Regions from separate parts of the Homo sapiens genome. Here region 2 is linked to region 1. The links come from fine-mapping of genetic effects on gene expression. A gene starts in region 1. The other region holds a variant in brackets. All regions are shown on one strand. Distances are between the middles of the regions. Region 1 holds the start of FEM1C (fem-1 homolog C). Region 2 has its middle 87 kb from the start of FEM1C.

Region 1 (16,591 bases):
CAATAACATAGGCTTTTAAAACATATCCCAATTTGACTTAAATATGAGTTTATCAATAATATCTACATCAAGCTGATGAATAAAAAGCCCAAAACAAAGAAACAAAAAATTCAACAAACCTAAACAAGCAGCCATGATTTCAAACCATTCCCAATATTAACATGGTTAGTTCAGCAGTAATTTGTTGTCTTAAAACAAGCATTCTTCAAAAGAATGATAATTGTTTGGAGAAAAAAGAAAAGCCATGCTGTCATTTGATCTACCAAGCCACCTCTAAAGATAATCAGGAACAAATGAAAACACTTATTAGAAAGAATGTTTACAGAAACATTTTTTATCATACTGAAAAACTGGAAGCAACATAAAACTCCATCAGTAGAAGAGTATGCAGCTATTGAAATTAAAGAGCTATAATTGGTAATATTAAAGATAACATTTATTAAGCTAAAAAACAGGTTATAGAACAGCATATAAAACTGCATACATATATCAGTATGCAAAATTCAGAAATATCTTTGGAAGTATTATCCCTGAGTACTGGGATTTTGTGGGATTTTTACACTTCCTCTGGAAAAAAAAATTCAGAAAAATCACAATGATCTTGTATCATTTTTATAAAAGATCACACTTGTATCATTTTTATAAAAGATCACACAATCTACAGCAAATATGCTCAGTAACTATATAGTGCCCCATAATTGTGTGGTTTAACCTTTCTGAAAGGCAGACACTATCACAACTGCAAATGTACATTCACTTTGATTTAGCAATTCTGAACACAGGTATTTATACTACAGTTATTCTCACACAAGCGTGAAAAGACACATTTTTGTTCAAGAATGTTCACAGCAGCATTGTTTATATTAGCAAAGTACTGGATGTGACCTAAATATCAACCAATAGAGACTAGATAAATTATGTACATTCATACAATGAAATACTGTATAGCCACAAAACAGAATGAGGTAGCTATGTGTGTTGGAGTTGAATGACATCCAAGGTTAGAAAAATAAATAAAGATAAAAAAGTATGTAATCAACCACTAGACGGAGGGCTACACAAACAAGCATGCTTGTACATAGACAAGTATGCTTGTATTTGCATAGACCAACTCTAAAAGGACACATAAAAAACTGTAAATAGTGGTTGTCAGCGCATTAGAGATCTAGAAATCAGGAATAAGACTTTTTATTCAAATGTAAACCAACAATGTAAACCAATTTACACTGTTTGATTTTTTTTAACATGTCTATATGCTACTTTTAAATTTTAATGGCTTTTAAAAATTAGGTAGTGAATTATTTTGCTGTCGTATAAATAGATTCGTGTAAGGGAAGTTAAGGTTTTCAAGTATCAAAATTATGCTATCAAGGCAGTTGCTTTTAAGGGTTAAAAAAATTCTAAACTACTTTTTGCTGCTTTTAGTTTATTACAATCAACAAAAATTATACACAATCAAAAACCGGAGCCCTTCTTCTGGACAAAGGTGTTTACACTGTTGCTAGCCAACAAATCCACATCTGTTTAATCTAGTCCTTGTTCTTCACTCTCAGTATTGAAGCAGTTTTAAAAATGTGTTTTCTCTCTTGCTATATTTAATGCATGTTCTTATAAAAGGATTATCTATTGACCACAAACAAATATAGAATAAGGGAACAGATTTGCTCCTTTCCACTGATATTAATCCTTCCAGGTCAGTTTAGCCTAGCCTTCTCTGACAGAAAAAGTGAAATGACTGCCTAGAACAAACAAGACCATGACTCAATAAATATAGTAATTTCTACTCCAAGGTTGTTCTAAAAAAAAAAAAAACAAAACAAAAAGCTAAGAAAAATGTATTACATTTAACCATATTCCCAAGTAGATTAAGCATAAGCCTAAAGGCTCAGATCAGCTACCACTAACATGCTCTGTAACTCTGGGGAACCCATTTCCCAAGAATTTTAAGTTACTCCAAATAAGAGAGAAAATACTGCTTAACAGAGTAACAGAAGTCTTTTATCACACTTTTTCAATCTATTACCAAACATCATAGAAACACTCAACAAAGTCATACTGGAAGACTTACCTAATCAAAACAGGTCTGTCAATGCTGGTTTACTCAACACCAGTGCTTATAATGATGTATCAAACTTCCTGAAAATAAGTGGTAGACATTTAGAAAAACAAAGAAGCTGAACTCACCTTTGACACTTTTTCTATTAACATCTGCCCCCTTTTCAAGTAAATACTGAGCAATCTCTTTATGTCCTTTGTAACATGAAATCATCAAGCACGTATGCCCATGTCGGTTTGACACTTCCAAATCAGCTTTGTGTTCTACAAGGTACTTCACTATTTCCAAATGGCCATCGAAACACGCAGCTCGAAGAGGAGTTGAATTGGTTAAAGTCGTGTTGTTGACAGATGCTCCATGATTTAACAAGGACTGGACCACCTTCAGATGTCCTGCTGCAGAAGCGGCCCATAAAGGGGGAGCCCCCTCAATGGTTTCGCCATCAAAATTGACGGAGCCCCCAACTTCTATGGAGGCACTGCATTGCTCTAGGAGGAATTCCACCATGTCAAGGTGCCCATACCTGGCGGCCATCAAGAGTGGCGTGGCCCCATTTGTTTTTTCAGAGATCAAGGAGGAAACCTCCTCTTTGGATTTGCTTGCCAACAATTTGGTGAGAAGCCGGAGTTTGCCATCCCGAGCTGCGTTAAATACTGCTGTCTTTAGATCCATTTATGTCCAGTTGAGAGGCTGTGCTTTATTTATCTTTCAAAGCAGAGCTCCAGTTTAACTCTATCGACACAGGCAAGAGTCACAGGAACCAAAGTCCAATGTTAATTGCTGCACCCCAGAACGGATACACAACCACGAAGAGTATGTTCCGTCCTACTGCTTTCCAACATCTGACAACCAGGGCACCAAACTAGAGAAAGAAAAAAAAAGTAGCAGCATTTAATTTTCTATAGAAGAAGGCAAAACACTTCTTAATTTCCACTTCTGTGGGAAGAAAGGAATAAAAGCTATACTTCAGGCACTACTCCATCCCACACACCCCCCCCACCCCCAAAGAAAAGGTGGTAAAGAAAAATACAGAAGGATACACAGAGACCCAAATGTTCTGGTCGCAGGCAGTCTCCTCCATGTGCGGAAAATTTAAACACTACAGGCAGCCCGTTTTCTCGCCTCCAGCTCTAACCAGCCAAGCTTTGTTCTAGTTTTGCTTTGCACACGCCCAGGGAGAGTACAACCGAAAGAGGCAGGAGACTCGGGTTCAGAAATGTTTCTCTTTCTTGCAACTGCAGGAGAGCTGGCCAAGGGCGCCAGGCTGGAAGGCCTGAGGCCGGGTTTCGAGAAAGAACAAAAAGGTCGGACACACCAAACCCCGGCTAAGGCCAAAACTGTGCCCCGAAAGATTCTCTTTCCTTTAAAACTACTCACGGCTCTCAGGAAATCCGCCTGCCTTTTAGTCATTAACTTCGCCCGCCCCATTTCGATCACCCCCCACCCCCCGCCAAGGGATGATCCGCAGGTTCCTCAAACCACAGTCGCCCCAACACAACCTTCCCCTCTCCCTGTTCCAGACAACGGCAGCCCCCTCCCAATCTCCTCCATCGACCACAACCCCCTCCCGATGGGCCAAGCTGTGGCCTCCAGCCCGCTGCCCGCCTTCGGCTCCCCCGGCGCCCTCCTTCCCGCCCAGGCCTTCCGCGGGCACCTCAGGCCCCGGCCCGAGCCCTGGCAGGCCGCTGCCGCCGCCACTACCTGCCCGGGGACTAGTCCTCCCCGCCGCCGCTGGTCACTCGGGCTTTGTCCGTCCCCTTCAAAGGGAAACCGTTGTCCCCACCGCCGCCCGGGCCGCCCTGCTCCGCCTGCGGCCGCACAGCTCCTCCATGCTCCGCGCCCCAAAGGAATGAATCCGGCCGCGCTGTTCGCCACGCCCCGCCACCCGAGCTGCCTCCCGCCCTTAGTCGGCTCGGACTGCAGCGGCTGCAGCGACTGCTGCGACGGATGGTGTAATGGGCTGCGAGCCGGGGGCCGGACAAGCCTGAGCGTCACATCACTGACTGTGCCGCCACGCCATTGGGCCGGGGGAGGGCGGCGGCCGCGGCCAGCAACAGCCTAGGCGCGGGGCGGGGCGTCGCGGCCGGGGTGGGGCGACGGGGAGGGGGCGGGGCCTGAACTACTGGGAGGACGTGCCTGCGTGCAACGCGCTGGGGGGCGGGGCGCTGCGAGGGGGCGGATCTGTGCCCATCGAAGCGGCCCGAGGCAGCTCGAGTTCTGAGATCTCGCTGGCTCTTCTCCTCTCGGATTTTCGGGGTGCTCCCTTAGGGAATCTTTCGGTCCCATCTCAGAGACCCCAGAAGGGAAGTGTATTAGTGCGTTTTCACGCTGCTGATAAAGACATACCCGAGATTGGGTAATTTATAAAGATAAAAAGATTTAATGCACTCAGAGTTCCACGTGGCTGGGGAGGCCTCACAATCAAGCCAGAAGGGGAAAGGCACGTCTTACATGGCAGCAGGCAAGAGAGGAAAATCAGAGCCAAGGAAAAAGGGAAACCCCATATAAAACAATCAGCTCTCCTGAGACGTACTCACTACCACCAGAGCAGCATGGGGGAAACAGCCTTCTTGATTCAATTATCTCCCACTAGGTCCCTCCCACAATATGTGGGAATCATGGGAGCTAAAATTCAAATTTGGGTGCGGACCAGTATTACCCTCACACACGTGAAGTCTCTCGGACTAGTCTTCCGTCCTTACTTTGGTGGGCCCTGGAAATTACCAAGCTCGTAATTACACCTCAGAACACACACGGAGGAAACTGAAATTTCAGAAAATGTGATTAGTTTTGGAGGCTGTCAAACTGACTCTCTTTCTAAAGTAGCCTCTAAAAAGCATAAAGGCTACGAGGAATGGTAAACCCTAAGAGCAATGTAAAGTCAATGAGGTCAGGTTCTTGAGCTCTGAGTAATAAATCGGGAACTAAAGCTTAAAAGGTTATATATATGAATGAAAAGAATTACTTCTTCATATAGTAGTTGATAAACCTCTGGAATTTGATGCTAAAACCTACGTTGCATTAAACTAGGATGAAAAAGTTTAAATGTGTTTGGGAAATAACGCCCATAATGAATCCTGATGAGAAAACAGAATTTTTGAAAATGGACCTTCAATCACTTTGTTTGAGGGAACTTAAGCTCACATAATTCCTTAGTACCACTAGGAGAAATAGAATATTACAGTAGGCAGTCTGACCCTCAGCATATGTAATCCATAACGTTATGTTAGAAGTCATGCAGCACTAAAAACATTTATAAAAAATCACAACTTCATTTTTGTATATTGTAGTGTTGTTCAGAAGTTTATGTAGTTTTGCATAATTGAAATAATTTTCATACAACTATATATTTTGCTTTTCCTTTCTATACTCTAAACGTTTCTTATGTTTTTACAGTCTTAATAATTTTTAAGTATAGCATAGTATTTCCCTTAGGTAGTCAGTATCAGACTACACTCAACATCAGATTCCCAAAACTGAAGTTAAGGTAATTGCCACTGAGAAGAAAATATAAAAGAATAGAGTATAAAGGATAAGATTGACCATCCATAAAAATTAACCAGCCAAGAGGACTGGCTGTTTTATCCCCAGCATATGTCACAGTTCTATACTCTCCCAGGGTACAGATAACAGTGTACAGTGTCCCAACCAAGGCCTAACCTGAGCTGACCTGTCTCTCTCACCTAATTCAATAAGATGTAAACATTCACATCAGCCATCTTCAAACTGAGCTCTGTATCCCTCATGGGATTGTTAAGGGATAGACGGACACTTAGTTTAAAGGCTACCAATTTCTGCTGTGGCTCACACCTGTAATCCCAGAACTTTCGGAGGCTGAGACAGGCAGATTGCTTGAACCCAAGAGGTCGAGACCAGCCTGGACAACATGGTGAAATCCCAACTCCACACACACGCACACACACATGCACGCACACGCACACACACACAAAAAATTAGTCAGGCATGGCATGCAGGAGGCTGAGGTGGCAGGATCACCTGAGCTGAGCTGGGGAGATCAAGGCTATAGTGAGCCATGATCACACCACTGTGCTGCAGCCTGGGCCACAGAAGGAAACTCTGTCAAAAAAAAAAAAAAAAAAAGGCTACCAGTTTCTGAATCTTCAATTTACACCTACGTTCTTTCCTAAAATTGATCTGCTGGTAAAGGAATATGGTCAAGGTGTCTCATTTCCCAACTCTTTCACAATAGCTGTATGTTTCCCAATTTGTAAAAGGAAAGACATTTGAGAATCTTACAGGCATTGCTCTGGGTTATAAAAGGCTCAGCAATCTTTGCCAATTCTTTATAAATTTAAAACACTGATCTATATTAGAAAGTGTATACTTCTAATGACTGGGTAACAAATTCTTTTGCAAGTCAGATGATTTCCAAATAATTGCTTTGAAAAAAGTATGACCTAAAGATCACTGATATCGATTAGAAGGAGTTCAAAGAATTAAGTGACATTGATATAATGACAAAACTCCTTATAGACCCAACTACTATTTTTTTTTTTTTTAGACAGGGTCTTTCTCTGTTGCCCAGGCTGGAGTACAGTGGCACAATCTCAGCTCACTGTAGCCTCGACCTCCTGGGCTCAAGTGATCCTCCCATCTCAGCCTCCCAAGTAGCTGGGACAATAGGCATGCACTACTACACCTGGCAATTTTTTTTTTTTTTTTTTGTAAAGACAGCATTTCACCATGTTGCCCAGGCAAGTGTTGAACTCCTGAGCTCAAGCAATCCACCTGCCTCCCCCTCCCAAAGTGCTGGGACTACACGTGTGTGCCACTACACCCAGCCTCCATCTACTTATTAATGTGAAAACATTTTCTCAGAATTTATAAAAATGAAAAATTGAGAAAACATTGAATCTGAACTTTGTCTCATTCTAGTAAGAAGTAGTATTTAACAATAAATGTGTGCACTTAATTGTAAAACATCACATTTAATAATCAAAAAATTTATATTTTGTATTGTTTTGAATACTTGAAAATTACTAATAAATACAATGATGCCTCAATCTGGAAGAAAATGAGCACCTAGGGTCTTTAGTTATAAGAAACTTAAATTTCAACTTATATGTATTTCTTTATATGTGTGTGTGTGTGTGTGTATATATATATATATATATATATATATATATATGTATATTTTTTTTTTGTGACAGAGTTTTCCCTGTTGTCACCCAGGCTAGAGTGCAATGGCACGATCACGGCTCACTGCAACCTCTGCCTCCCAGGTTCAAGCAATTATCCCTGCCTCAGCCTCCTGAGTAGCTGGGATTACAGGTGCCTGCCACCACGCCCAGTTAATTTTTGTATTTTTTAGTAGAGACGGGGTTTCGCCATGTTGGCCAGGCTGGTCTTGAACTCCTGACCTCAGGTGATCCACCCACCTTGGTCTCCCAAAATGCTGGGATAACAGGCATGAGCCACTGTGCCTGGCTTTTATATGTATTTTCATTGCAGAGAAATATAATAGAGTGATTCATAAAACACATTCAGCTAGGCATAGTGGCTCACGCCTGTAATCCCAGCATTTTGGGAGGCCCAGGCAGGAGGATTGCTTGAGCCCAGAAGTTCAAGACCAGGCTGGGCAACAGAGTGAGACCCTGTCTCTACAAAAAACTTAAAAATTAGCCAAGCATGGAAGTACATGCTTGCAGTCCCAGCTACTCCAGAGGCTGAGGTGGGAGGATCACTTGAGCCTGGGAGGTTGAGGCTTCAGTGAGCTGTGATTGCACCACTGCAGTCTAGCCTAGGTAACAGAGCGAGATACTGTCTCAAAAACAAAAACAAAAAACATATTCAAACATAAAAGTACATTAATTAGGATATATTCCTGAGGAATGGGATGTGGAATGGAATTATAAATGCGAAGAGAAAATAAATTATGTAAAAATATCCTATAGGTAAATAATAATTTGTTCATATATTTTTTTAAATGGTTCATAGTAAGCATAACTGCTATGATATTTAGATTTCGTTGGATTCATTTAAAAGCATGTTTTATTTAAAAATGTTAATTTTTACATTTTGCGGAAAATTGCAACCTTTGCGAATACTTAAACTTATGATGAAAAATTTTAGGTGACAATTGAAAAATATGTAGGAGGGTAGATAGCATCTCATGTGCATGAGTAAAAATGTTTGAAGACTTAATTGAAATGTTTGGAGACTTATTCACAACCCCCTATTGGAAGTCATTTCCATTTCTAAAGAACATTTGTTCTTCCAATCTTTGATTTTTTTTTTCTTAAATAGAAAATCAACTAAATTTCCTTTTATATAGATTTTACATTGTGTTTCTAAATGCCCACCTCTTTTCTACCTTCCATCAATGGGAGGGACAACTTTTTTGTTTGGTTTGGTTGGTTTGCTTTGGATTGGTTTGGTTATTAAGACTTTGATGTCTGGTTAAATCAGCAATTACTGTCTTCCTGAAAGCCACAGAATGCTACTGGGGCATAACAGGAAGACTCATTTTTAAGGGGTCTGTAGGGGGAGCCAAAGACTGGAAAAGGGGAAAGGGACCAGAGACAGCCTCTGAATTACCCATTCAGGTAAGTACCCAGAGATGACAGACAAAAAGGGGAACCACTTCCGGGAGCCAAGGTGAATATTCAGGCTTCCCCGACGGGGGAGCAAAGTGTTACTTGCATCCAGAGCATTTCCCTAGGCCCAAGGCTTTATAATGTAAGCCCAGAGGAGACATTACCCCTTACCTGAAAGGCTGATGGGGAGGAGGAATTGGATCAGCAAAAAGGGGACACCCTAATTATAGAACAATGAACATTTTCAGGCCTATAAGTTGTTTTCTTCTTCTCACATATTGCCTTGGGATAAATTTCCAAGAGTTGGATTACAGAATGTCTTTTTGGCTTTTCATATACATTGTTATACTATTTCCTAGAAGACTTAGACCAATCTGTCACCACCAGCAAGGCACTATTGACTTCACCAAACATTGAACCCACTTGATATTATATTTTTTGAAAATTCTTACTGGTTTTGTATGTGTTAAATGATACCGCCAAGTTTCCCAAATTTACCTGGCTACCCTTGGGATTTTTTTGGTCTGTGCAATATCCTTGAATTAGTAGAACATTCCTTCTATAGTATTCCTTCTGGGGATTGTCAAACATTTAATTCCTGCCAGTCTATATTTAAACCAGAAACCTCAGTGAAACAGTTTGCTTGCACGGTTTTGGTATACTTTGGTAACTTGTTCTAATTTGAGAAATGGCCAGGATGAATTTTTTTTAAATCTCTAGTTTTTGGTAACTAACTGGGCATAGTTCTATTTAGAAAAGTATGAAAAGAATCTACTTTCATGAATTTAAAAGTTACACAAAAATAGCATAGCAAGGTGTACGCTTCTTGTGCTATTTAGAAATGTCTTTCTCATATAAGTCCGCTTTATTAACACTGATAATTTGCTCAAGGTGAGATATTTTAATTGTCATAAATTCATTCACCACCTTAAAAATTATTGAATCCTGGAATCCCAGCACTTTGGGAGGTCTAGGCTGTCAGACTGCTTGAGCTCAGGAGTTCAAGACCAGTCTGGGCAACATAGCAAAACTCCATTTCTACAAAAAATACAAAAATTAGGCAGGCATGGTGATGCACACCTGTAGTCCCAGCTACTCAGGAGGGTGAGGTGAGAGGATGGCTTGAGTCTGGGAAGCGGAGGTTGCAGTGAGCTGAGATTGCGCCACTGCACTCCAGCCTGAGTGACAGAGCCAGACCCTGTCTAAAAACAAAACAAAACAACAACAAAAAAAACCCCAATAAAACAAAGTTATGGAATCCTATTATGTACTATGTTAGATACTGGATGAATATGACATAATCTCTACTTTTGAGGAATTGATGGTCTGTAGGAGAAATGTAGCTATAAACAGATGAAAACAAAATATGTGTATAAACAACAGTGAGAGCCCAAAGAACAGAGCTGCTAACTCTGCTTGAGCAAATCTGGGAAGGAGGTGAAGGTTAAATGGAATTTTAAAGGATTAGTAGGAGGAAGCCTAGCCAAAAGTCAGCAGGAGGGGGGTGGGAGGGGGCACCATCCAGAATGCTGGAGCTGAGAGAACACGTGAGATGTTCCCTTCTTTCTTCCTGCTTCCCCCGTGCCAGGGAGAGAGTGGTGCCCTAAGCTACCCTCTGAACGACCAAAAATCCCTACTCCCCTCACTCAAAGTGTATCCTAATATTAACACACCATTTCCTATTCCTACAGCTCAACCAGCTTTCATATTTTCTTCATGCAGCTTCTCTCTTGCAGGTTTTAGGAGGAGTGAGACCCCACTTAAGGTTATTTACTTAAAGCAAGAATACTTCCTTGGGGTACTAGCATTTTAAAAAGGAAACTTGTGAACCCAAATTAATTTTAAAATTGTAGAAATATGCACGCAAGAATTCTTTTAGCAGGGAGATTTCCAGGTTCCCTTTGGGTAGTTTGGTCTTATCTTTACTTCTCTGAATGAAGCAAGATAAGGAGGCAGCAACTCAGTCACCAAATTCTGTTAATTTTCTCTTGGCCCAGTCTCCCTCTATAGTATGGGGTTATCATTTCACTTATCACATTATTACAAGCTAGAAATCTTATGTCATTATAAAAGTATCCATTTATTTCCTTTGTTGTCTTATTTCCTGAAGTTGTCAGGGCCCTAACTCTAGCTCTCTAGCCACACCCTAAGTGACGAACTCTGGTCCTGAGTTCCCCATCACCACCCAGACTGATGTCAGATGGGGCCAGGTTCTTCTCAGTTTTCAACACATGCGACCCCACCCAAAGTCACTGGATCCACGCTTTATTAGAGAGGGATGAGTCAGATCTCTACTAACCCAGTAGTCTATCTAAGTCTCCACACAGAACAAGGACTCCCTATCGTCTCCCATACCTGGGTCAAGGGCACTCCCACCTCCTCTCCCAGGCCTGGGGAGAGTGCCTCAGACTCCACTGCAATGCCCCTGTTGACCAGGACTAGACACTCGAATGATCTTCTGGTGCTTTCCTCTTTCAGAACTCACAAAACAAACTTTGATTTTACAGCCTCACTCTCTAGGTGTCTTCACATCCTGGCACCAGTTCCCAACTATATCAAAGCTGCCTTCTCACACACACACCAACACCATCCCCACACAAGAGCTCCCAGCCACCTCCTCAGATGCTTAGCTCGAAGGCCCTCTTCCCCCTATTTGAATAGGAACAAATCACTATGGATGATTCTCTCTCTCTCCCAAGGTGATTACTCCAAACTCCAGAGCTGCTTCAACACCCCCCCAAGTGCTCTCTGGTCTAGGAACCTCATGCCATTCATCCTCCCAGTGGAATTTACTATGTTCTAGTGTGGAATTCTGTGAGGATCAGCTCCACCTCATTTCCTATCCCCCTGACTTTCTGGGCGTCTAGTGACTGTGTCCACTGACTCTGTGCCTCCCACTCCATCTTTAGGTCCTTCCTACACAGGCACAGGGTGTTCCACTGCTGCCATTCTCTGAAGAGGCCAGTGCCTCAGAAAGAAAGGTCACTTTCCCCAGCCCCAATCCCACCTGTTTTTGGCTTCTTTCTCCTGCTGCCAATTGGCAGTTCCAATATGTCTTGTCCATATCCCAGCCCTGAACTCAGTCATGACGGTAGGGACCTTCACTTTGACTCTTTCTTGTTGGAGCCAGCCATGAACCCATCTTCAAACTCCCAATACTTATGATTGGAAACCCCCTGGCCAGTTGTTGCCTGGATTGTAACTGGGGCTACTGTATCTCTTAATAATGACTCCCATTTGGCTCTTCCACTGGCATTATTCTCTGCACCTAGGTTAGTTCTTCAAAGCCTGTCCCATTGTAGTGGGTAGGTCTCATGCCAAGTCTTGGCCTCTCTTCCTGCCACATGTGGCCATACATACAATCAAATCTTGAGTTACAACTGCTAGTCAGAGGGGATAAGCCCCTTAGTGTATGTTCTGTGAGTTCAGTGCTATTGTGGAGCATGCCTGAGGACCCATCTGAAGACTTTCATTAGTGGTAGGTCTGTGCTACCTAAGGTTCTCCCCATGAGAAGCATAGATCAGATCCTCAGAAGCAGGCTGGCAGATGTGTCCTTGACACTGAGTACTGCTGTATGTTTATCCTCTTTAAGCTCAGTACAGTCAATCAGTTTTCCATGATTTATTTTATTTTGGCTAAGTCAGTTTACTGTTATTTATTTTAACTAATAAGTAAGTGTTTTCCCATGTGCTTCAGACAAGCTTCAATTCCTTAGTCAGAGGCACCCAGTCCAAGGATACCTAAAACAGCCCTCACCTTCCAAGTCCTTATTGAAAGTAACCCTCTGATTAGCCATTTGTGGAGGGCAGGCATATTTCTTTCATCTATTCATTCAGTCAGTCGCTTATTCTTTCAACACGTATTTATTGCTGACTGTGTGCATTGCGCAGTGCTGAGTGAGCCTGGAAATACAGCATGCATGAGCAAGATTGTGTCATCTATGCCCTCCTAGAAAATCCAAAGAACCTCCTCTGGGCTGGGGTGTGGTGGAGAGGAAGGCTTTCTAGAGGCAGTAATGATTGAGCAAATGCCTGAAGAATAGGTAGGTGTTTTCGCAGGTGAAAGTTGCAGGCAGAGAGAAATGCTTACAAGCATTAATTCTAGATAAGAAGAGAAAGGTTGGCTGCTGAAGAACTAAAAGAAATCTCACATGGCTTTAAAATAACCCACAACAGGGGATCAGTGAAAAATGGAGAGTTTTGAAGGAGGCAGACTGGGGAGAATCTTAGGAAGTCATGTGAAATAATTTGAACTTGATGCTATGGCCATAAAACTTCCTTCAGGTGGAACCCAAACCTGGGCACAGGGGGCAAGGCTGGGCCCAGCTTCTGCTAACCTGGAGGGCGCCAAGTCAAAGTCAGCATCTGGTTGTCCTGAGAACAAGCTGGACATGATGTGGAAAACTGTCCAGCTAAGTCCCTCACTCCTCAGGCAAAGGGACCCCAGAATCTCACAGTGTCCCTTACCTGGATCTCTACCTGGATCTCACGGTATGCCTTCTGGATCACTGAGTAAAAGAAGTAATTTGCTCATGTTCCACCTCCACCTTAAAAACAAAAACAACAAAACAAAAAACAGAACACTCCTAAATTCTAATTCAGTGCGTCTATTCAGTAGGTTCTGGGGCTAGAATCCCTTATTTTCCCTGCCCAGAAGAGTCCTGCCTATTAGGGCTCTACTTTATCCAACTTAAGAATAAACAATAATGCCTACAGTTGTTTGTTTTGATAAAATCACCAGCTTGGGTCCCTCAGTTACAATCGCATACAGGCCCCACTCATGGTTCCTGGGGTAACATAAAGTTGCTATGCCCTGAATGAGAGGCCAAGGTGGGCAGATTCCTTGAGCTCAGGAGTTCAAGACCAGCTTGGACAACATGACGAGACCCCGTCTCTACAAAAAATACAAAATTAGCTGGGCGTGGTGGTGTGCACCTGTAGTCCCAGCAACTTGAGAGGCTGAGGTGGGAGCCTGGGAGGTGGAGGTTGCAGTGGCCCGTGACCACACCACTGCAGTCCAGCCTGTGTGATACAGCCAGACCCTGTTTAAAAAAAAAAAAAAAAAAGGAAGAAAAGAAAAGAAAAGAAAATGTCAGTTGTGTTGGAAAAGAAAATGTTTTGAGCAGTACCCTAGTTCTGTGGCTAGAGAGAGGAGAAAGAGCAATGTAATTTCCAGAAACCTTTTCTGGAGGACTAGATTAATGGAAGTGTGGATTCACCCAAGCTGTTGTTGGCTCTTAAGTTGGTTTTGTTTTGTTATCATTGTTATTGTTGTTCTTGGAGTAGCTTATAAGGTTTGAAGGATTTAGGGGAGAAGTCAAAGGCCTTGCTTCGGTGAAAAATTATGTGACCCTTACCTTCATCTGAGAATATTAGGCTGAGAGCTACAGTCTCCCCAGTTGATCCTTTGCTCTGTCTACAACCTGTTCATCTCTATTTATGTCTTGGGAGGCAAAATGGTGAAAACTGTGCTTTTTACATCTTCCACAGGCTGACAGCAATCTCACACTCAACCTTGTACCTATCATCAGCAGGACACTGACAGTGATGATAATGATGCTAAACAACCACCAATATTGACATTATTTTTAAGAACCCATTGTTTTCCAGGTCCTATACCTTATTTTACATTCCTAGCTACTGTAAGAAATATGTATTTTTAAACTGTTTGTAGAGGAAAACTGCTAGGATATACATGCAAGGTTTCTGTTGGCCCGTTTCAAAGAAAAATGTGTACACGTGGACTCAGGGTGGGGGTGGGCCCTGCCAATTTCCCAGCCTCTGTAGCTCCCTTGTTATAACTGGATGCCACATATTGCCCTGCCTACTTCCTCCACTCCCCATAGCTGCCATTGTGCCCTTTACTTCCTCTCTTAGGATCCTTGTGATGCTTTATCTATTTCCTTTATACAACTGGAAGGCCCAGGAGGGCAGGGGCCATGTTTGGATGTTCAATTCTGAGTCACCATAATTCAGCAGAGTGTGTGGCACACAGGTTGTCCTCAGTGAATATTTGCATAGTGAAAATGAATGAGTGGATGTGGAGACTCAGTCCACCTCTGTTCAGGCACAAGCTGGACTTTGAATAGGAAGATTCAGCCTTTCCCCTAGTTTCCAGGCCAAACTAGATACAGGGAGACAGGTTCAAATGTCTTTAGCGCACTCATCAGGCCAGCACCTCTAGAACAGCAGGACCCCCAACCTCGAGGAAGGAATGTATGAGCTGAGATCTGAATGTGGAATACCTTGTGCAAAGACCTAAAGAAGAAAGGGGCATGGCAATTCAGAGCTAGCAATGACAGCTCTTGTGCTGACCATGGGTTTCCAAATTGTTTCTTAGTTTCCTTTGTTGCTAATTAGTATTATAGTTTGCTGCTAATAATAGCAGTGAGCATTTATTTAGTGTTTCTGTGTGAAAGAGGCTGTGCAAAAAAGGTTTAGCATTGCTACGTTAATTTTTATAACAGACATTGTAAGTACTTCTATACAGATGGAGAAACCAAGGGTTAGAGAAGTTGAGTAACTTAAACAAATTCACATGGCTAGTAAATGGCAGGGTGGAATTTGTCTGACTTTAGACAGTCTGGGCCAGAATGTAGGTACTACGTTGCCTCCCCAGTATATTTCCTCAGTAATGGGTCTACTGTCTCCAATTTGCCATTCTCCATACCCCCTCAGTCCCTAGGTCCTGGGGCTGAGCTGCTGTGTATAGTTGTCTCCCTGAAGGACTCCCATCTATTTGGGACCTGGCCTGCAGCTTATAGCTTGCAGGACCACATCCCCATCACTGGAGAAACACCAGCAAGAATGGGCCCCACCACCTTGGTCTTGTTTTCTATCCTGAGCAGTTTCCTCTAACTTGCTTCCAACCTGCTTTCTTCTCCCATTCCTGACTGCTGGACACCTAATCCCTAGATTCACTGCCCATTTGTAGACTTATTTGCCCTTCAGATCTGATATGTGACCAGATTCCACTGGATCATTTGTGGATGGCTCATGTTGATTATGGTTTGCACTTACCCCTTTTGTTTTGCTGTTTCCAGTTTCTTTGAGTAAACACTTCATCTGGGAAATCCCATCCTCTGAACCCTGCCCGCTATGATAGGCTCCATGAGGATGTCCATGCCAAAATCAACATAACTGAAGGAGAGATGGAACCATGGCATGGTCTGAACCCCTAGATCCCGCCATGTCAGAGGTCAAATATCCCCTGGCCAGTGCCACTGTGTTGCTTGCCTCCAGAATCACTGAACAGTGCTCCCTGGAGTTAGGCAACATGCTAACCCTGTCCTAGCCTCTCGGATATATGAACAAACACATCCGTCTTCCAACGCTTTTTGTTTTTTGTTTAGGCCAATTTGAGTTGGATTTCATTCATTGCTATCAAAAGATTTCTGACAAATAGTAAACAAACATAACATATACAAAGTGAGGTCAGCACTAGGAAGAAGAAACACATATGCTTTTAAGGGTGTGCAACAGAAGCCATGACCTATTCTAAGGGGTCAACATGGGCTGCTTTGAGAAAGTGTTACTTGATGTGAAAGCCAGAGGAGGAGCAGTTAATTAGGAAGTGAGTAGAGCAAGGAGGAGGAGTCCAGGTAGAAGTAAACACTGTTTCCTAAGGACATGTCTTGAAGTGAGAAAAAACTCAGTGCACTGTGAAAGCAAATAGAAAGCCAACACGTGTGGAGTATTGTGAATAAGAGGGAGATGTGGACCCCCCAAGCTAGAGGCAGGTAGGAACCAGACCATGCAGTCCACAGAACTCTGTAATCATGGAGTATCCAGACTAGTGATGAATGCAAAGTGTTTTTCACTTGGCAGAGAAATAACTTGGTGGTGAATGTAGGAGTGGTGGTGCCAGGTGACAGAGTTTTTCAGATGGTCCCATTAACCCTTCCAGACTGAGGCATTAGCCTCCTAACAGGCCTTCCTACAACTGCTCTTGCCTCCTTAACCAAATTTCCCCCAGCTA
Region 2 (16,753 bases), 91 kb before region 1:
CCCCTTCACATTGTCCACCTCCTTGCTAAATTGTGTGTGTATATGTATATATATATATGTATTTTCCAAGAACTCAGGCTTAAACTCTAGGGAATTTTCTGATCACTTACTGCCTTAGCCCCAACATTGACCCTGTTTCCAAGCACTATTGATTCTACCAGTCCAGTGTTTCAGTCTCTCACGTGGTCCTCTTCTTTCATGTTCTCACTGTCACCAATCTGGTAAAGGCTCTTCATTCTCTTCTTTCTTGTAATAGCGACCTCATTGTTCTTGCTCCACCTGGCAAATGAGCCTCTTGGATGCTTCCAATCACATTGGTTTCTCATTCTCCACACCTTTACTCAGGTGCTTTCCTCAGCATCCCCTTTTCAGTAAGTTACCCTGGAATCCATAGACTTTTCTCTGCCATTTTGGCATTTTACCACGTTACTTTGTTGCAATTTGTGCACCTCTAACTTTTCATTATTACCTTAGTTTGTCTTGGAAGCCCCTGAAGTGATGAAGAGTTTACAATCTGAGAGGACAAATAAGCTACATCCACAACTATAAAGCCCTTGTAGAAAGTAATAATATGTGTTCATCTTGCTTCCTCTTCTAAATATAAACTTAGGGTAATAATTTTGCCTTATATTCTTCTATTCCCACCCTCATTCAAAGTTCAGGATAGTGTGGGACAGAGATTTCAATAAACCTCTGCTACTTAAGGGACTCGTAGACTTGAAAAATATCTGAAGAGAACAAATCTGTCTTGAGCCAGAAGATGTCCCAACTAGAGGTAGCAAACTGGTGGCCATGGGGCCATATACTGATTGCAAATATATTTTAATGATCCTCCTAAGGTTTTAAATATTTAAATTAATTTCTCAATCTTTATTAGGTTGAAAGATTACATACAAAAATCTGGATTTCCAGCTTCTCTTGAAAAACAATTACAGTTAGCAACACTAGACCCACTGAATGACCCTGGACAACAATTGGCTGGGGCTGACATACGTGCCTTTTTGGGACACAGCCAAGACTCTCCAGGTAGCCACAAGTTTTTCCCACCCTATTTAAGTTACCAGCCTGGTCCCTGTAGGCAGAGTTTGGAATCCCTGATTGTACCCCACCCACCAGTCAGGTTCTTCCTCCAGCACCATGCTAAAAAATATTTCAGATTTCTCAATGACCTCTATTTCCCAGGCTGATAAATGAAGGCCCATTTCGCAGGGGTCCTGTGGAGCCATTTCCTAGACCAATTACTGCCTGTGACCTCATTCCAGTTCCTCCTGCCTTTCTTCCCCTCTGTTTAAAATGAAAGTAAGCCAAGACCCTAAACAAAAACAGGCTTTCATCCTCAACCTCCTTAAAGAACAAATTAGAGCCTAAGCTTTAAGAGCAACTATTGTCAGCCCATCTCAAGCCAGAGTGTCTCCCCAGAACAAACATCAGCAACTTTTACATGGCCCAGAGGTCCAGGGCCATGGGGAAATAGAGGGAATTTCCCAAGTTAAGCAAGAATTCAGTGCTACCAGTTCTGAAAGGGTTTTTAAATACAATGTGAAAGTTCCAGAAGGCCTCTGAATTTTGTTTGTAAAGCAGATATGCAGCAACTTCTGGGAAGCTTCCAGATGATTAATGGAATCCACACTTTCTATGTGGCTATCCCATTTACTATAGACTCAGCCTCCAGAACTGAGCAAAATCGTACCATCTGTGAATCAACTGAACTCCCCTTGATACCCATTATCATAGCAGAAATACTAATGATGAATATGAAATGTAATTGCTGGGTGGGGCCGAGCTAGGATGAGACGTGAAATGAGGCAATGCTTCAAGTGAAAATGTGTGTTCAATTAATGTGGCATTAAATTCCTCAGGTTTTATTGTAATCTTATTCATTCCCCACAGTCGATCTTTTCTGAGAAAATTAAAAAAAAAATACATTACAATTGCACATTGGTTCTGATGTGACTATGCTATCGTTCTCAAACTTTTGAGAAACACTATTAGATGTGTCAGGAGTGTGTTTCCTAGATTGTTTGTAATACAACTAAGGGGCAGGAGGCTATCACCTTGAGAGGTGCCACAACTCTAAACAAGCAGGGGCCTTCCTTGTTTAAACTGTCTTCTTTGACTGATTTGTGACTAGAAATTTACCAAATGCAGCTTCATAGGGGTGTGTGTGTGTGTGTGTGTGTGTGTGTGTGTGTGATGACGAGGAGCTCTAGCTGTGCAGCTGAGCAGGTGTTGGAGAAGCTGAAGGTTAATGATTTAATTCATCAAGTGTCCCAGCCTCCCATGTGCACAACAGCAGCCCACACCCAGCCACTCCCATTGTTCTGGTGGGTGGGACGGAGGGCTCTGGGCACAGACTCAGGTGGGCCAGTCCGAGGGCTGTGGCAGGCAAGGTGAGCAGTTCTGGCAACGGGGTGTGGGTGGGCTCCCACAGACCTAGACAAAGGCTCTGCTCCTACATGCAGTATCTGGTGAAAATAATAACAACATTAAAGAATAACATGAGCATATAGAGTTCCAGGCCTCAGCAGGACTGACAGTGCTTCTCAGCAGGGGCCCCTTGCTTCAGAGCCAGATTAGCTAAGTGCTAACCTGAGTAGGGGTCGCTCAGCACTCAGACCCTCTCCCCGCAAGGGCACTGAATCCTGCACATCTACTGGAAGCCCCAAAAGTCGTGACCCCTGCTATTTCCCTTTCCCCACCTCTCTGTGTCTGTACAGACCTATTAGCCCAGAGGTCACAAATTGCAGCCAAGGGCTGGGGTCTGCCTGCAGGGGGGTTTTGTTCATCTAGCAAAGTTTGATCTTTTTTTCTTTACCCTGAAAACCTTCACTATGGCCCTCATCAGCTCACTGGCTTGCATTGACCACTTCACATGCTCTTATCTGCCCTGCAGGTGAATGTGATCCCTAGACCTTTAACACCTGGCTCTGAGTCCTGCCCGCACCTTCCAGGCACCACTCACTCCAATGGCTCCACTCCTGGGCTCCTTGATACAGGTACTCACAGTCCTACCACACGACTTGATTCTTGTTGATGGTTTAGTGTATGCTTATCTCAGTATTATTTTTGTCAGTATACATGTGCTCTGTCTCTTTTCTGTTGTAAACAGTGAGCTCCTTAAAGACATGGATTACAGGTATTTCTCCACAGGTTCTCTTAGTAGTGGGTAGGAAAGGAAAACAGTTGTGAAGATCCAGCTCATTTCTTCTCATAACATCCTTCAAGACGTAACAAAAGAGATCTGTTACACCCATTCCACAGGTAGGGTATCAAGGCCCACAGACTGATGAAATCAATCACAGACCATCAGTGGGCAGGGCCTGAATCTGAGCCTAGACTTTCAACTCAGAGCTCTATTAAGTTTCTTATCTTCCTTTGACCTATCTAGGCCTTTTTCCTACAAGTGAAATGAAACAAAACAAATACTTCTTTCATCTAAGTGAAGAGAAAATAGAAGAAACCAGTTAAAATTTTCCTTTCTGTTACTCATGGTGGAGGCAAATGAACAGTGAAGCAAATTAGCCAAGTTGAGCCACTTTTCTCAGCAAAGCCGTACTCTCTGTATGCTTCTATTATGCTTGTAGGAAGAGTCCAGAGTTTCCTGTACACCTCACTGAGTTCCTGAGCCCTTACTGAATGCTCAGGGGAGCTTAGGGTATGCTGAGGCATGGTTCAAAATTCCACATAAATGCAGCCAACTTGGAGGTGTTTTGAGCTGTGGAATGCAAGTGTGTCTTTGCTTGGCAGGAAAAAATTGCTCCTTTATATCTTATTCTCACTGCTCTAGGAAAATTGTAAAAATGACAAAGTTACTCCAACACCTGTCCCCACCCTGCAGTGAAGTGGAAGTGGGGAAGGAGAATCATTGATGATGACCACGGTTTACTGCCAGCTCTGCTGGTAGAGGCAGGGCTCATTTTTATGTTGTCTAGTAAAATCGAGCATGCAAGTGTTCTTGAAATGAATATACCAATAACAAGGAAAGAAGGGCATATTTGGGAAGGGCAGAGGCTGTTAGGAGAGAGGGGAGCTGGTGCAATTAAACTGCTTAATTTCCTCTGAGTAGAGCCAGAGCAGTCAGGCACTTGGTTGTTGCTGAGTGGGAAACCTCTCTGTCCTTGGGGTGGTTTAAGGTCTCCAGCATATCCCACATAATGGGGTGGAGCAATCGGTGCTGAGACCTTACTCTTAGAAGCCAATTCAAGCCAGGCCTCATTCCAGGTGAGGTCGTACCTGCAGCTGAGCTAGCATTAGAATATCTACTGATTCTTAGATTGGCCTATCTCAGTGCCACAGGACTGGCTTGAGGCCTAGAACACAGTAGGAAGATAACCTGGTAATTCACCTGAGCTCCAAAAGGGGAGGCCTTAATTTCCACAAAATCCCAAAGTCATTCAAACAACTTTGGAAAGCCTTTCAATCCTCCAAGCAATCCTTCCACCCTGCCCAGCCTCAGGACACCTCCTCACTTTTTCTGTATCTCCACTTGAGGTGACACATTCTCACCTGACTGGGTCTTTTTAGGTGATAGTATCTTCCAGTGACTTCATGAGATGCCTGAGCAATGGCCCAAGACTTAACAATATAGATTCCATTCAAATACCTCTAGGAAGCCTCCAAGGTAGAAATTCAATGGCAAGAGGTCAGCACACCTTGGCTGGCTCCTAGGGGCAAGTGGATTAGATTTAATTTAATAACATGAATAGATAATTCATTAACATGCTTCAAAACTCAAAATGATGTCAGAAGTGCCCTTTAAAAAGTCTAGGTCCCTCTCCCTCACCACTAGCTCATCTATCCCAGTCTCTACTTCTCAAAAGTAACCATTTTATGAGTTCCCTGAATATCCTTCCAGTGTTCCTTTATGCAAACACAGGCAAATACGTACTCTTTCCCATCCCTTACACAAAATGTAGCAAATTATATACAAAGTTTTGCATTTTGCTTTTCCACTTAATAATATATCCTGGCAATTTGTATTAATTTACTGAAAACTTCCTCACTCATTTTTGTAGCTGCATAGTGTTTATGTGGTTCTGCTATAATTTATTTAACTGGTTTCCTACAGATGAACCCTTAGATTGAATTTAATCTTTATTATTACAAAACAGAGCTGCAGCTGAAAACCTTGTACATACATCTTATTATACATATATAGGTATGTATGTAGGTAAATCCCCAGAAGTGAGATTGTTTGGAATGCAACTGTCAATGCATTTGTAATTTTAAGGAATATAACACAACTGTCCTCCATAGACCTGGCCTGTTTGACCCCTCACAAGTATTGTAGGAAAGTGCCTGTTTGTCAAGTGAAATGTTGGAGAGGAAACAGTTCCTTGTGCCAGGGCAGCCCTCAAGACTCCACGTGAAAGAGAGGTGAAAGACAGGAGACGGTTTGTGTTGCACTGCGTGGCACTCAGAAGAACACTGGAATGAGTTTCAGAGAAGCGAAATCCACTTGAGTTCCTGTGGGCCTTAGAAAGTGTTCTGCAATGGGATTGCCCTTTGGGAGACCTCTTTCAGAGCAGAAGTTGAACAACTGCCTTACTCCTTTGATGAAGGACTCAAACATTATTTGAGTTTTTGAGCATATGATACTTGCAGTGTCAATAATTCAAATCCTGGTTATAGCAGGAGGGCAAAGGGGCCATGCAGCAGAGCCCTGGCCTGGGAGTTGGGATTTGTGTGTTCTAAGTTCACATCTGCCTTTCTGTGACTGAACTCACCTCTCAGCTTCAGATGCCTCACTTGTGCAATGGTTAAATGATTCTTGCCCTTCCTTTCTTTCGGGATCATTGAAGAAATCAGATAATGTGGACAGAAGCCCCCACAAACTGGAAACTGCTCTTTAAATGTAGGAGTTATTATTCCTGAAAGGCAGTGTCCAATCAGAATGCCAAGAACTGTGGGTCTGGCAAGGCAAATGAATGAAAAGTAGGTCATGAGAAACCGAGTCCGTTGGTTCATGGAGGGTAATCTGGGTCGTCTGTGGTGAATGCACACGTCAACCTGTTCTACCCATTGCAGACAAGGGCTCTGATTGGAAACCCTCTGACTCCTCCGTGCTTCTTGGCCTTTGACAAGTTTATCACAGATGGGAGAAGGACATTCTGTTTCTTCAGTGTTATGGGCTGACTCACTTCCCTCTTCTCTGCAATAAGCACAAAGGCCAAAGTCAGTCCACTCTACCAAGAAACAGCAAAATGGCTCTGAGAGTGGTGTCCTTCCGGATTGGTGGTAAGGAAAATATGTCTATGAATATTCATTCACTGCTCATTTAGGAGTGTTCTGTGTAAAGACTCTTTGAAAGCTGATGAGAATGGGCATAAAAGGTTTGATTAATTCCTGAGTCAGCTGGCCCCTACCCCAAAACACATGCAATGATTGTCACAGAGAGCTGGTTTACAAAGAAAATGTTTCTGCAGATGTGTGGGCTTGGTACTGCCACCGCCACCCACTCTCCAACAAGAATAAAACAGACTCTGGGATTGGGCTGGGCCCTTTAGGGTTAAGCCACAGATCCTAAAGTCAAATTAAATATCAGCTCCTGAAGGGAACATCCCCAATGCTCACATTTTCCAAGATGTCAGGTCTGAGTATAGGGGACCTCTATCTGAAATTCCTCCCCTTTCCTCTCTGTGTATTCAGGTCCCATCTATCCTTACAGACATCGCAGGCTCTACTGGCCCTGGTGAAGTCTCGCCTGACTGCTTCATCTCACAGGGATATTTCATTCTTTTGCAATCAATGAACTCTTGTAGGTCCCTCCCTCTAGAGAGTTAATTACACACACTTGCCACCCTGTCACGTCTCCCTGCATTGTTGGCTTACTATAATAATGATCTTCATTATCATTACCTGTTTATATGTTCTTTCTCTGCTCAAGCGATCCCACATTCATTTTCCCTCAACAACATATACTGATCACGCAACATGTACCCTGACTCACTGATGAGGAATCAAATATAAAGATAATAATAATGATGATGTAATAACCCCAAAACAATATTTACAGAGTACTATACCCCAGCTTCTGGGCTACACACTATCTTATTTAATTCTCACAACAACCATTTGAAGAAAGGTTTGTCATTATCCCCATTTTACAGATGAGGAAACAGGCTCAGAAAATCTAATAAATCTGTCTGAGGCTACACAGCTAGCGTTTGATGAAGTGATTGGTAAATCCTCAAGAAACAAGGTTAGTGGGGAAGAAAAACAAATGGCCCTGCAATTTCAGCCCGTGGAAGAGCTTCTTTGGTCAAGGGCAGAGTGCCGTGGGAGCACAGAACTATCAGAACTGTGGACAGGTGTCAGGGCAGGCTCTAAGAGGAAGGCAGAGCCTGAGCCGAGTCACAGAGGATCAACAGGAGACGGCAAAAAAGGAGGATCCACTTCCTAGGAACAAAGGTCTGGGTGTCTCCAGGGGCCAAGTTGCCTCATCTGTTCGCCTAACTCCTCACCTTCAGCTCCACCCTCCAGGGGACCCCTTCTAAATCAAGCCTGTTCTTCCGGGAGGGAAACTGGGGTGTCTACCCTGAGCCCTAGGTTTGGTGGTGGCAGTGGGTGCCCCAGGATGTTGCAGTTATTTTTGATGGCTATTAATTTACATTACAAGCATACATACTTTCATAACATCTGGCGCATGCTGGCTGCATTGCTCTGGGCTCTGCAGCCCTCAAGGATTTGCCCTCCCTGGAATTCTTCCTGCAGTTTCCCCACAGTTCCCCTTAGGAGTCTAAACTTTTGTGGAGCTTTATTGATCCTGGCCCCAGACCATTCAGAAAAGGCACTAATTCAATTACAGCTGCGTGAAATCCTTCAGAGGCAGCCTAAGGAGACTGATTTTGATTCTCCTTTTCTGTGTCAGTGGTTTCCAATAGACAGTGTTTGAGAGGCAGAGCATATTCTCTTTAAATTATAAATAACCAGAACAGGGAAAAGAGGTGGCACTGGGAACGGGGCAGGAATGGGTAAATTTAAAAAAAAGCTGCAGCAAAATGATAAAACCCTGTGGCTTCAAAAATGTTTTATGAGTTTCTATAAGGCAATAACACAGAAGGGAAGGTCCTTTTTAAAATCTATTTTCTGAGATGGTCTGTGCTGTATACACTGTATACACATTGTGGCTAAATCTCTGAATTCCTAATACAGAGATTGAAACTAAAATCAAGAAAGCAGAGGGGATTCCACCAAAATCATGCAGACCATCAGGGGTCAGTTTGGAAACCACCAATCCTGTTTAGATATACAACCAACTGCTTCCCCCATTCATGGTGTCAGGCCTCTTTCACATTTATAGCGCCTGGAAAACTCCAAGAAAAGAAGATAACCTTACGTCGCAGACCCTGTTAAATTACAACCAGCAATGAGTCACCTGCCACCTGCTTTCTAACAGAACTCAAATTTTGCCTACTCTCCCAAGGATCCATGCACTTTAGGGATTGGCCTAAGCCTCTGGGAATTGGTTTGGCATGGACATAGGAACCAATGCTGGCCAACGAGACACACGGGCAGACTCCCGGGGAGGCTCCTTGGAAAGAGATCTTCCCATCTCTTCAAAAGATAAATAGACATAGATAGGTATAGGCATA[A/G]GCATACAGTAGAACTAAAATGAGAACATTTTGACTCATGTAACTGAAAAGTAGAGGCACTGCATGGGAAGAAGGATTGTGCTGGACTCAGAGTCCACAAAACTTGGTCTTTCTCCATTCCCAGTCTCCTTTGTTCTGAGTTGGCTTCGCACTCAGGAAGCCTCCTCCCACAGATGGTTCCCTATTAACTCCAAGTATGCATAATTTTACAGCCAGCAGTTCCCAGGTGATATGGTTTGGACGTGGTTCTCTCCAAATCTCATGCTGAAATGTGATCCCCACTGCTGAAGGGGGAGCCTAGTGGGAGGTGTTTGGGTCATGGGGGCGGATCCCTCATGAATGGCTTAGTGCTGTCCTTGCCGCATTGAGTGAGTTCTTAGTCTGTGATTTCATGTGAGAGCTGGTTGTTTAGAGTAGCATGCCACTCCTCCTCTCTCTCTTGCTTTGTCTCTCACCGTGTGACATTCTGGCTCCCCTTCGCTCCACCATGATTGTAATATTCTTTAGGCCCTCACCAGAAGCACCAGTGTTCTAGTAAAAGATCTAGGCTTGAGTTTTATCCAATCAACTTAGGAGATGTGTTCATCTCTCAGACAACCACTGTAACATGGGGAAAGAATATGCTAATTGTCCATGCTGGAGTTACTTGCTGGCTGCTGAAACAGGACATGGGGTGGAATCAGCCCACACAGACCACTTGCAGGAAGAATCAGGGAGGGGTAGTTCCCCTAAAGAAAAATGGAGAATCTGCTAGTAGAAGAAGTTGCATGGATGCTGGCCAGGCATGGGAGGTGTCCACAAAGCAGGGTGATGTAGATCATGGTGAGGAGTTGGGATTTTATACTATGAGCACTGGGAAGCGATCAAAGCATTTTAAACAGAAGAGTGATCCACTGACATATGTTCTGATGACATTTCAAAAACAAAATTCTTACTGCAGGTTACAGAAAGTACTTCAGGGAGCTAAGCTTGGAAGGATTGAAATCAGGGGCTATGATAGAATGACAGGCAGGAGAGCTTGGTGCCTTGAACCAGGGTGGTATTTGTAGAAATCAGAAAAACATGAACATATTTGAGATACTCTTGTGGAAGAGCTGATGTCACTTGTTGATGGATCAGAGATGGGCTAGTAAATGAAAGAAGTCAAGCATGATTCCCAGGGCTTGGGCTTGATCACCTGAGTAAATCATGATGCCATTTACCAACAGGAGAAAGACATGGGAAGTGGGAAGACAGGGATGAGCTGGGAGGGCAAAAATCAAGAGTTCTGTCATGAATACAGAAGAACAGTCTGTGCTGGAATTATAAATCCAGGAATCATCAGCATATAGACATTATTTAAATGAGAAAGACGGAATGAGATCACTCAGGAAATCATGTAGAGAAAAGAAGTGGGGGCACTCATACTACTTCACCAACAATTTCTCCACTCTGTCCAACCCGGTCCTCTTGGGTTCTGAGCAAATAGGGGTTCTCTCACCCCTGGACTTCTTTCTTGTGCCATTCTCATTGCCTGCAATGCCTTCCTCCCTTTTCCTAGTATCCCTGAATGCTCATTCTTTAAGGATCAGCTCAAATCTACCCTCTCCAGGAATCATGGGCCTTGTTTAGCCCCACTGCCAATGTCGGCCTCCTTGCTTCCCGTAACTTTGTTTATTCACTGCACATTTGGCATTTGTAAGTCAATGTCTTCTGCTCTGTGTATATGTCATATTTCTCCCAATTAGAGTATAAGCTCAGAGAAGGCAGTCTGGATGCCTTTACACTCCCCAGTATTTGGCAGGTTTTCCAGAAAAGAGTTAAAACAAACATCTGTTGATCAATGACCACATTCACTCTTATCTTCTCTTGCTACTTTTGTGCCAGTGGTTGAGAATTAATCTCAAATTCTGAGCAGCTCAGCAAGGGTGTTTCAATCAATTTCTTGAAAATAAGGCAGCAATTGTCAAATGCTTTAAGACACTTATGGCAAATAAATGCTTGTGGCAAATAAAAAGAATATGACTCACTTCATATTGAAAAGAACCAGATGAAAGTAGTTTCCCACAGAGGAAAGTCATAGAATTAAAATGAATGTCTATGAACCACTTCAACTATTTTTGCATCTACCCCTGAATAATATTCCACTTAACTGGAACATATCTCAGTGTGTTTGTGCCCATTTAACACTCCCTGTCTTCCCAACCCAGCATCTGTAACTTACAGCCTGTAGTCATTCCAAAATGCTTCCACGTGGCTAACCTGGGTTGCCAAGCCCCATCTGGCTCAATTAGCACTGGAGATTCTGGAGAGCCCCAAATTATCATTCTTTTCTGGTTGTACTACCAAAGACCTTCCCATCCTATCTCTTCCTCAAACTCCCTAAGTTCCATAGTTGTATTTGTTCCAATTTTGAATCCCAATAGTCCCCAGCTGTTTTAGATGCCCCGCCTCCCCACCCCCATCTGGGCTCTCCTGGCTGGGCTTCCCATGACAGTATTCTCCAATTAGGCAAATCACCCTTCAATCCCCAAATTTTCTTTAAAGCTGTAGCAAGTACACCCACAGTCGTGACAATACTGAATAAAATGGAATAGGTCTGATTCACTTTCCCAAAGCTGACTTTTGCTGCTGATTGACTCATATCTGTTTACCAGAGGTCATTTGATTTCCTCCTTTTGACTCATGCTCAACTTCAAAACTGATATAACTTGAGTGTGCCACTCGAATGTGACCTTCCTTTTTGCCTGCAGAACCTCCAGCTCCACTCAGCTCCTGGGGCTCAGCCAGCAGAGCTGTGCAGTGGAAAGGAATCCACCTTGGAACAGGATCCCTGGCTTTACCACTTCAATTGCTGAGTGATCTCCAGCTAGTTAGTTTCAGCCTATTTCCTCATGTGAAAAATTGAGGTAAAAATACTTGGAAATATTGTTGTAAAGGTTAAGTAACGTAAGAAAAATGCCTGGAACCATGTCTTCCACCAAAGTAGGTAGGGGCTCAACAAATATTGAATTGATTCATATGACATTGCCATTTATATAGGTCAAAAATGGCCAAATATTGACAATTTCATATGGTTCAACCTGCCATCAGCCTATTACTCAAGCACCTAAGAAATCAGTGTCCAATTGGTTGGAGTATTGGGTACAAACAAGGTAGAACCTTAGAGGTAGAACCCCAGTGTTGACTTTTATTTACATTATCAAAGAATCAAGGAAGGCCAGCACCCTACTATGCACTTTAAATTCTGGAAGATTTTCTTCACTCTTAGCTAGTTAAACAAAGCCGATTTAAGAGACAGGATAAAATTGTGGTTTAGAGCCTAGACTCTGGGGAGAGATTGTCTGGGATTAAATTCCAGCTCTGCTACTGACGAGCATTGTGAAACTGAGCAAGTTTGTTAATCAACCTGGGTCTCAGTTTTGTTCCCCGTGACATAGGATATTACAGGGTGTTGTGCAGATGAAATAAGTTAAAACATGTAACATTCTTAGAATCTGGAAGTGTTAACGATCATTATCTTGATTTAAAATAGGTGGTTTGGCCTGACTAGTTAGTGAAATCTCTTTCACAACAAAGCACCCATTGGGTAGAAATCAGAACTCCAGCAATGGAGAATCAGCCTCCCCTTGTTGATCAGTCCCAGTTTAGCAGCTGGGATACTCCTTGGGAAGCTCAAAGATGGTAGGTGTCACCACCCATGATAGCTCAGTGAGAATCCACCCAGCCAGTGATGAGTGCTTCAAGGGTGGGGCAGAGAATATCACACAGTCATTTGGAGCAGTGGTGATTCATGCACACCCTGAAAACCTCAACAGAAAAGAGATGGTAGCAGATGAAAAGGAAGAGGGATACAATTTCCACAACCAAGAAGAAACAGACACTGCTCATTCTGGTGAGAAATGAGAGCATAATTTGAATTCAGCATTTATTTAGAAAATCAGATTAATGAGGACAAAGACATCATAAGGAAAATAATGATAAAGACCTCTAGGCTTTCCCACAATCACTTTCATGTATATTATCAAACTATATCCACACACAAAAAGTCTCTGAGTCAGATAGGCAAAGCCAGCATTATTTTCATGTATGGATGAGGAACTGATGAATCATGGAGTTTGAATGGCTAACTAGAGTCTAAAAGAATGTAGAAACCCATAAAAGACAAAGAGAATAAAGAAAACAAGCAGACAAGAGAATTCCACACAAGTTTGAAAGATAGGACCAGATGGAGGTAAGTGGTTTAGTAAGACAGAGGAAGCAAGGATTTAAGTCACCTGAAGACAAGTTACCACAAATGAATTAGCTCATTCATCCCAATGGAAAACCTGAGATGCTCAAGATTTGGAGACAGCAGGTACAATGAAGGGTTGGGGTGAGGTAAGGAGCTAAAAATAGAAGTTGAAAGTTCGTTTGTGAAGCAGTCATGTTCTTCTCTCACCTTGCACAGTCAGGCCACTAGTTTCCCAGGCTGGTGATGAAAGAGTTTTTTTGTGTGTAATTTGAATGGGAAAGGCTTTGACTTGGGGCTACAGAGATAGGGGCAACAGAGGGGAGGGACATGGAAGTCTGCAAACTTAACCAACTTCTCTTCATTTCTCCCTCCCTACTACTCTTCTCCGCCTCACTTCTCTAAAGAAGATATACAAATGGCTAACAGGTATGTGAAAAAATGCTCAACGTCACTAATTGTTAGGGAAATGCAAGTCAAAACCACAATGAGATATCATCCCACCCCAGTTAGAATGGCTGTTATCAAAAAGACAAAAACTAAATGTTGGTGAGGATGTGAAGAAAGGGGAATGCTTATACACTGCTGATGAGAATGTAAATTAGTACAACTATTATGGAAACAATATAAAGGTTCCTCAAAAATCTTAAAATGGAACTACCATATGATCCAGCAATCCCACGATTGGGAATATATCCAAAAGAAAGGAAATCAGAATATTGAAGAAATATCTGTACCCCCATGTTTATTGTGGCACTATTCACAATAGCCAAGATAAGGAATCAACCTGTGTCCATCAACAAATAAATGGATAAAGAAAATGAGGTCTGTATATACAATGGAATGCTATTGTATATAAATACATTTTCAGCCATAAAAAACGAAATCCTGTCTTTTGAAGAAATGTGGATGGAACTAGGGGATGTTATGTTAAGTGAAATAAGCTCGGCAAAGAAAGACAAATATTGTATATTCTCACTTATATGTGAAACTGAAAAAAGTTGATGTCTTGGAGGTAGCGAGTAGAATGATGGTTATCAGATTATCTTTTGACAAATTAAATTATCCTAAAGAAAAAGTTTCCAGCTTTATTGATTGACCGATTTGCATTTATGAACTCCATGTTCAATCACCCACATTGTGCACACGTACCCTAAAACTTAAAGTATAATAATAATAAAATAAAAAAAGAAAGAAATAATAAATAACTTATTTACCTTTAAAAAAAAAAAAAAGATCATCATCACACCACTGCACTCCAGCCTGGGTAACAGAGTGAGATCTTGTCTCAAAAAAATAAATAAATAAATAAAAATAAAAAGAGAGAGAGAAAAAAAGTAAAGTGACAATAAAATTTCCCAGGAGTAAAAAAAAAATCTCCAGATTGAACACATTGCTTTTATGAACAGAAAAATAAATTAATTAAGGCCCACCCTATGCCAAACTATGTAATTGTGAGATTATGTGTTACCCCCAAATTATGTGAGAAACATTATGAGATAATTGTGTCCCCAAAGAGAGGGGAAAAGTCACTTACAAGAAAATAAGCATGAGGAAGGAATAGGATTATACAACACTTACAATAAATGTTAGAAGAGATCAATAAGATAGTGCCTTCAAATATGTGAAGGAAAATTAAGTTTCAACCTAGACTTTGAATCTCAGCCAGACTATAACTCCAGAGAGTTGATAAAATAAAGACATTTTCAGAAGAGTAGGAATGCAAAAACACTACCCCTATTTCTTTTTTTTAAAAGCAACTGGAGGACTTTCAGTTATCTTAATGGCAGTCTAGACCAATCCTCCTGATGAGGTTGACTAAAACAGCTATATATGTATATTGAGTAACGTAGAGGATGAATATATACATACATACTTTTTTTCTTAAAATCCTTAAAAAGCAAACTAGTGAGGGATTACCATGCCAAAAACTTGGGAGAATATAAGAAGGAAAAAGCAAGTACTCACAGATGCACTGGCCCTGATTAGGAAGAAACAGCTGCAGTATGGAGCTGTGGTATTTGGCAGCCTCACTGAACAAAATAGATAAAAGGACCTGCCAAGTGGAAAGTCTGATAAATACCCACACATTAAATGAAGGTCCTGAAGGGCTTTACTCTTAGGGCAGAGCTTCCCAAACTTGTGGGCACATTAGAATCACTGGAGAGCTTTTAAAAATTCCAAAGCCCAGGTAACACCAGAGACCATTCAAATCACAATCTCTGACTGTAGGAAACAAGCATCAGTACATTTTAAAGTTTCCCAGGTGACTCAAATGTACAAACAAGTTTGAGAATCGCTGCTGTTAGAGAAAGAATAAATTGAAATCAACACTGTTCTCATATGGATGATCCAGGGAATCTCAAGCCTGAAATTTCAATTAAGGTAGTCTAGAGTGTCAGAAGCAAATTAAAATTTTCTGTGGAGGTAGATGTTTTCAATCTATGCCCAAATTATTTCTACGAATAAGATTTCAAATACAATGTTAAGCATAAGGTCTGTATGAGACATAACCAGGGAGTAAAAAAAGACAACAGAAACAAGCCCACAAAGATTTCAGATAGTGAAAGTATTGGGCACAGCCACCAAAATCATGTTTTCTGTCTTCAGACTGAAAAAGAAAATCTTGAACATTTCAATTGGGAAGTGGAAACTTTAAAAAGTTGCTTTTATTTGAAAAAGGACTGAGTAGAAATTCTAGAACTAAAAAATACAGTAACTATAGTTAAGAATTCTACAGGTTTACCAGATATACAGGTAGAACAGATATAGCCAAATATTAGATTAGGGAACTGGAATATAAATTAGAAGAAAGTATCCAGAAAAAAACGAAAGGATGAGTATTGATTGCCAAATATTTGTTTGCATGGCCAGAGAGTCAATATTTCAGATCATGCAGGCCATACTGTCTCTGTGGTAACTAGTCAATTCTGCCACTATAGTTCAAAAAAAGCCATAGACAACAAGCAACTGAATAATCATGACTATATTCAAAACTTTATTTACAAAAACAGGTGACTACCTCCAAAGCCACAGTTTATCAACACTTAACATAGAATGAAAATTTTAACATATGTATGTTATGTCTTGGAGACATAGGTCTCCAAATAGACCATAAGGAGAGTAATGGGGTACAGACAGTAAATGAAAAAAAAAATTACCAAGAGTTTTTTAAAACTGATGAATGACACCAATTCAAAAAATTCAGGAGTTCAATAAATCCCTAATATGATAAATATAAAGAAACCCATACCTTGGTTTGCAAGAAAAGCAAAGAGAAAGGGAAAATCATAAGCTAGAGAAAAAGAACACTTTCAAAGTTGTGACAGAGTGGCAACTAACTTCTCAGTATCAAAAAACAAAGACTGAAAGGTAAGACCTCAAACTGTAAGAATCCTAGAAGAAAACCTAGGAAATACCATTCTGGACACTGGCCTTGGGGAGGAATTCATGACTAATCCTCAAAAGTAATTGCAACAGAAACAAAGATTGACAAATTGGACCTAATTAAACCAAACACCCTCTGCACAGCAAAAGAAACTACCAACAGAGTGAAAAGAAGACCTACAGAATGGGAGAAAATATTCACAAACTATGCATCGGACAAAAAAGATCTAATATCCAGAATCTAAAAGAAACTTAAATCAGCAAGCAAAGACAACTCCGTTAAAAAATGAGCAAAGGACATGAACAGACACTACTAAAAAGACATACAAGTGGCCAACAAACATATGAAAATATGCTTAACATCACTAATAATCAGAAAAATGCAAATCAAAAGCACAAAGAGGTACCATCTCCCACCAGTCAGAATGGCTATTACTAAAAAGTCAAAAAACAATAGACGCTGGCAAGGCTGCAGAGATAAGGGAACACTTATACACTGTTAGTAGGAATGTAAATTACTTCAGCCCCTTTGGAAAGCAGTTTGGAGATTTCTCAAAGAACT

What was found.
Region 2: its variant is fine-mapped to the expression of FEM1C in whole blood (INTERVAL, PIP 0.97).

The regions. Positions count from the first base shown.
Region 1 is chr5:115,540,766-115,557,356 of GRCh38, forward strand. It overlaps FEM1C (fem-1 homolog C), which reads right to left and starts at 4,010. Exons shown (of 3, transcript NM_020177.3): 1 at 3,758-4,010; 2 at 2,185-2,918. The coding sequence starts at 2,728. RefSeq lists enhancers at 3,559-4,325, 3,867-4,161 and silencers at 3,591-3,760, 3,811-3,860, 3,961-4,300.
Region 2 is chr5:115,449,366-115,466,118 of GRCh38, forward strand. No RefSeq gene overlaps it. Among named protein-coding and RNA genes, the nearest start is that of FEM1C, 87 kb to the right of the region's middle. RefSeq lists an enhancer at 10,937-12,136. The variant A/G (reference allele first, on the strand shown) is at 8,595.